Regions from separate parts of the Homo sapiens genome. Here region 1 is linked to region 2. Evidence: fine-mapped expression QTL. A gene starts in region 2. The other region holds a variant in brackets. All regions are shown on one strand. Distances are between the middles of the regions. Region 1 overlaps TLCD4-RWDD3 (TLCD4-RWDD3 readthrough). Region 2 holds the start of TLCD4-RWDD3 (TLCD4-RWDD3 readthrough).

Region 1 (2,907 bases), 99 kb before region 2:
ACAATGTAAATGCTCTGTAAATAGTTGTTATACTGCATTGGTTAGGGTATAATGAAAGAAAAAAAAGCTATACATGTTCAATATAGGCACATTTTTTAAAATATTTTCAATCTGAGGTTGGTTGAATACATGGATGCACAGTGTATGGATACTGAGGGCCAAGTGCAGCCTCTACTTCACCTCTCACTCACTCTTCAAACCACTGCAGTCATGTGTCTACCCAACAGTGACTCAAAGTCCAAATCCAGTGGATTCTCCTCAGTCTTCATCTTACTTAACCTGAGGAAGATTGAAAGTACTGATCACTCACTACTTTAAAACTTCCAGTTTCCTTACCACAGTCTCCTTGGTTCTCCTTTTATCTCTCCTTCTCGTTTACTAATATAGCAAGATACTCACCTTTCACCATTTTTTATTTTTGCCTTTTAAAAGGTGATAGAACTTGAGCTTCTTGTTCAGAAGGGTTATATGAATAAACTTCTAAGTTATGCAAATGTAGGGTGAGTGGCAGCCAGCATAAGAGGATGTTCCCCATGGAATGCCTTCTTCCTTACTGCCAGAGTAATAGATCCAACTTGTTCAATAACAAGTGTGTTCCTGGTGGTCTTTGGCTAGACAGCATTGGCAATTTTTGTCTTATATATAAGTAAAATACTAAACACATTTATATTATTGCTTATGTGATTCAGTGACTTTAAGTAATGTAAAGAATGGGAGGAAGTCACACATACACACACCTGATAGTTGATCTCTACATTGGCACACAGCCAGTACTTACCAAGTAATTAAACATTGCTTTATGTTGTCTATTATCCTGTCTAATCATTTCAGCATGTTTTTTAATGTTACTTATATGATTACCTATTAAACATTTACACTAAACAAGAGATTTCTCCAGACAGAAGGAAGATTTTGCCTTACTTGTTTTAAAAGAGAGTTCAAATAGGGATCTGATTAGATGTAGCTCAGGTGCTGCTCTCTTGCACACATTTGGGAAGCCTGAGCTTATGGATGGCAATTACAGTGTGTACTGCAGGATGGATACAGCACTGCAGACAGTGAGAAGATCAAGATACTGAGCTAATCTGTGGAAGCAAGAGCCCACAGTTCCTTTCAGAGGGGTTTGCCCTGTTTACATCATCTCTTCCTTTATCTTCGTTTACAACAGTAAGTCTACAAATAGATATAGACAGCATCTCTGTGCAGGTGGTTTTCTGTGAAAATTAGAGAAGGACCAAGTTTTACCTCTGGGTTCT[C/T]TCAATAAACTGTGGGAAAGTCTGGATTTTTATAGGCTATCAAACTAGGGTTGTGTTTCTATCCAATTCTGTCTAGATCTTAAAAGAAGGGAGAAACTCCAGCTTGGCATCTGGTTGTACATGTCATCTGAAAAATCAACTGAAACTTTTTGAATTCAAGTGGAGAGTGGAAGTGGCTGCAAGTAGACTATGAACTCTTTGAGGAGGAACTCTTCTGATATGGTTTGGCTCTATGTCCCCACCCAAATCTCATGTGGAATTGTAATCCCCATGTGTCAGGGGAGGCACCTGGTGGAAGGTAATTGGATCACGGGGGCAGATTTCCCCCATGCCGTTCTCATGATAGTAACTTCTCACAATATCTGATGGTTTAAAAGTCTGTGGCAGGAGGACTCTTCCAAGATAGCCGAACAGGAACAGCTCTGGTCTGCAGCTCCCAGTGAGACTGACACAGAAGATGGGTGATTTCTGCATTTCCAACTGAGGTACCTGGTTCATCTCATTGAGACTGGTTGGACAGTGGGTGCAACCCACAGAAGGCAAGCCGAAGCAGGGCTGGGCGCCGCCTCACCCAGGAAGCGCAAGGGGTCAGGGGATTTCCCTTACCTAGCCAAGGGAAGCCGTGAGAGACACTGTAGTGGGAGGAACAGTACACTCCTGCCCAAATACAGCACTTTTCCCACAGTCTTCGCAACCAGCAGACCAGAAGATTCCCTCCAGTGCCTGGCTCAGTGGGCCCCATGCCCACCGAGCCCAGCAAGCAAAGATTCATTGGCTTGAAATTCTCGCTGCTAGTGCAGCAGTCTGAGATCAACCTGGGATGCTGGAGCTTGGCAGGCGGAGGGGCGTCTGCCATGGTGAGGTGTGAGTAGGCAGCTTCTATGCTCACAGTGTAAACAGAGCTGCCAGGAAGCTCGAACTGGGTGGAGCCCACCGCAGTTCAGCAAGGCAGACTGCCTCTTTAGGTTCCACCTCTGTAGGCAGGGCATATCTGAACAAAAGGCAGCTGCCCCACTCAGGGACTTATACGTAAAACCCCCATCCCCCTGGGACAGAGCACCTGGGGGAAGGGGCAGTGGTGGGCACAGCTTCTCCAGACTTAAACGTCCCTGACTGACAGCGCTGAAGACAGCAGTGGTTCTCCCAGCATGGTGTTCAAGCTCTGATAACAGACAGACTGCCTCCTCAAGTGGGTCCCTGACCCCCGGGTAGCCTTACTGGGAGACACCTCCCAGTAGGGGCCGACAGACACCTCATACAATAGAGCTCTGGCTGGCATCTGGTGGGTGCCCCTCTGAGATGAAGCTTCCAGAGGAAGGATCAGGCAGAAACATTTGCCATTCTGCAATATTTGCTGTTCTGCAGCCTCCGCTGGTGATACCCAGGCAAACAGGGTCTGGAGTGGACCTCCAGCAAACTCCAACAGACCTGCAGCTGAGGGGCCTGACTGTTAGAAGGAAAACTAACAAACAGAAGAAGCATCAGCATCAACAAAAAGGACATCCACACCAAAACCCCATCCATAGGTCACCAACATCAAAGACCAAAGGTAGATAAAACCACAAAGATGGGGAGAAACCAGAGCAGAAAGGCTGAAAATTCCAAAAACCAGAATGCCTGTTCTCCTCCAAAGAATCACAACTCCTCGCCA
Region 2 (2,907 bases):
TTCAGAAGACTCCAGTGAAGACCTAGCTTCCCTGGGGTTTGCATTAGTCTCAGCACCTTGAGCATGCCATTCCTAGTTCACCTCCAAGTATAAAGCATTAGTAGCAAAGACCCATTATTCTTTCCACCAGGGTAAAGAAGGCTTAGAGTGAAATGAATATAAATGGAAATCTAATACTGTAAATAAATAATGACTGATTGGGCAGCTGGGTCAGAGGCATCCAGCCTAAACAGATAAAATTCATCTCAAGGATGAGGACAGTAAAGATTCAAACTCCAGAGGGAGGTAATGGGACAAAAGGAGTTGCAGGCGTAGAAAAAAAAAGAAGCACCCTCAAAATATTCTCTGGGTTATCAGATGGCACAGGAGGGGCGTGGCAAATAAACTAAAATCCATGGTTCTTCACCCATTCTTTCATATTTTCTAACACGGCGGGAATACACTTTTCTAATTTCGTTTCGCCCAATTTAAGGAAAAGATAAGCAAGGATAAAAATTCCTCATATATAGCACAATTAAAAGGGAGCTGGGATTCTCTAACTTATTACCTTAATCGGCTACACAAAGATGAAGCTACATTTCAATCGACACCATGCGCTGGCACGGGAGTAACTCACTTAAAACACCACAATCCAAGGTCAATTTTTCTCAACTCCATTTATGACTGCGTAAAGATTTTATTAAATCTTTTTTCCTATTTCACACATCAATTCCTAGGGTCCACACAAACTCTTCCATCTTCTCCAAACTGGTATTTGGATTAAACATTATCCAAGATCAGTCTTTAAAGTAAATTTCATAATTTCATATAAAAGTGTGCACCACATTAACACTCAAATGTGTGTACAATTAAAAATATACAGACCAGCAACAGCGACTCTTAAATGAATTTAGACTCAAAGTGTTTTCACAGAGGTTTTTCTGCCGTCTTGGAGGGGTAGGAAACTGCTGGCATTACGAATCCCATTTCATGGCTGGGTAAACCGAGGCACTTAGGGGTTACAGAGGTAAAGATGGAAATAGAAACCAATTTCTCCCTCCGACTCTACGCCTGGTCCCTTCCCACTAGACTTTTCAGCACTCAGTGGCTAAAAATGGGACCCACTTGAGAACTGCAAGGGTAAATAAGAGCTACTTGTTTCAGAAGGTGGCGGCGGGGGAGGGGGACTTACCCACTTGATGCGCCCGATTGTGTGTGGGCTCTAACAAGAAAGCTCTCCCTGGATGCCCAAAGGTTTGCACCCACCCGCTTTAAGCTCAGACCCGAGAGGCACCGCCAGGCAGACAGGGCAGCCGGAATCGTGCAGCCCGAGAAACGCGAGAGGAATGCGGGGCGCCCGGGCGGCGCGGGGGCCGCGGGCCCCGGGACACCATTTGCTCCCGGAGCGACGCCGTGGCCCGCCGGGCGGGGACGATGCTGAGCCTTCCGCACACACCTGCCGGAGCCCGCCCGGGAGCCCCGGGCCGCCTCCCGCGCGCCGGACGCCCACCCAGCCTCCAGGCGCAGGAGCTCTCGGCCGCGCTAGGCCAGGGGCGGGAAGCCGCGGCACCCCTCTCCGCGGGCTGCGCTTGGCGGCTGGCGCGGGGGAGCCGCGGGGCGAGGCAAGCCCGCCTTCCTCCCCAACCCCCCCTCCAAACGGCGTCACCTGTGCCGGGTCCCGGGGCGAGTCGCGCGCGGGCGGCGGCTGCGCCGAGCCGGGAGAGGGCGGCGGGTGTCTACAGGAGTCTGCTCATCCGGGCCGGCCCGAGGGCTGGCGCTGGCCAGTGCCGCCCGGTGAGATGCTCACGGGAGCCAGGGAAGCCGCGGGTTCCGGGCCGCTTGGAGGTGCAGTCGCGGAGGCTCCAGCTACCGCGGCGGCCGTCGCGCCCGCCCGGACTGCGGGCTCGGGTTACCGCAGAGCTGCTCCTTAAAGGGGCCGCGGCCGCTCGGGCTCCGGCTCCCGCTCCGGGCGGCTCCGACCCTGGCCAAAGTGGGCGGGGCCCCGAGGCGGGCCGCCGAGCAGACCTTCTTGCCCTGGAACTTGGGTCCCGGAAAGAGCCCAAAAACCCTAACACCCGAAGTCGCAGCGGAGAGATCCTGGAAGCTCACACCTTGCCAAGGGCAGAGGGTGCAATTCCCGGGTTTTCCAAAGCAAGTCACAAAACTTGCCAGCGGGGGAACTGTGTGAGCCCGCCCCCGCAGCGGTCAGTACCTGGGCTAGCCACGTAACAAAAAATCTTCTTAAATTATGAATTTACATTCTGCCTTAAATGCTCAAATACTGGGGACTTCATGGTTAGATCATCAGAAAAGAGATGAAAAGGCAACTGCTGGTTTTTCTTGCCACGTCTGACACGGCCACACTCGAGTCCCGCCAGTTCTTCTTTGGGGCTGCAGGTGCATACCAAACTGGTAGGGGGCGCGTGTAGAAGAAGCGTGTTCTCTCCAGCACCACCTCCAGAATTCCTGAAAAACACCCTCATGGGTGCACCAGCACTACACCTACACCCGGAACCCCTCTGTTGTCGGGGTGTGGAAGTTGGATTTGAATATTTGGTGCTGGCTGAGAATTCCAAGTTGCCTAGTAGATAAAGTTTGACATTAAATAGATGTTCTGACCTGTTATATACAGCCCCAAAAGCCTCCAAGTGATCTGCATCAACCAGAGATAATTGTCTGAAACAAAACAAAATAACAAAGAGGTATACTCATGCATTATAATTCGCAGAGAGCAATCACAAGGCCTTTTCTTGAAAAGAGGTAAGTTCTAAATAAATAATTTGTAAACACTATCATTGATAACAGGATATTTATTTCTAAGAAATGTCAATAGAGCTAACATATTTGATCTACTATATACATGCGCAGAAAGACACACATATCTGCCGCAGATTTAGACCAGAAAATATATACACAAAAGCTCATATA

Evidence for each region. PIP is the estimated chance that this variant, and not a neighbour inherited with it, causes the effect.
Region 1: its variant is fine-mapped to the expression of TLCD4-RWDD3 in whole blood (INTERVAL, PIP 0.97).

Annotation. Positions count from the first base shown.
Region 1 is chr1:95,215,732-95,218,638 of GRCh38, reverse strand. The region is part of intron 6 of TLCD4-RWDD3 (TLCD4-RWDD3 readthrough); the gene reads right to left. All of the region lies in intron 2 of RWDD3-DT (RWDD3 divergent transcript), which reads left to right. Among named protein-coding and RNA genes, the nearest start is that of RWDD3-DT, 17 kb to the left of the region's middle. RefSeq lists an enhancer at 1,524-2,024. The variant C/T (reference allele first, on the strand shown) is at 1,257.
Region 2 is chr1:95,116,356-95,119,262 of GRCh38, reverse strand. It overlaps TLCD4-RWDD3 (TLCD4-RWDD3 readthrough), which reads right to left and starts at 1,340. Exons shown (of 8, transcript NM_001199691.1): 1 at 1,172-1,340. It overlaps TLCD4 (TLC domain containing 4), which reads right to left and starts at 1,908. Exons shown (of 7, transcript NM_152487.3): 1 at 1,646-1,908. RefSeq lists silencers at 1,418-1,467, 1,548-1,827, 1,755-1,901.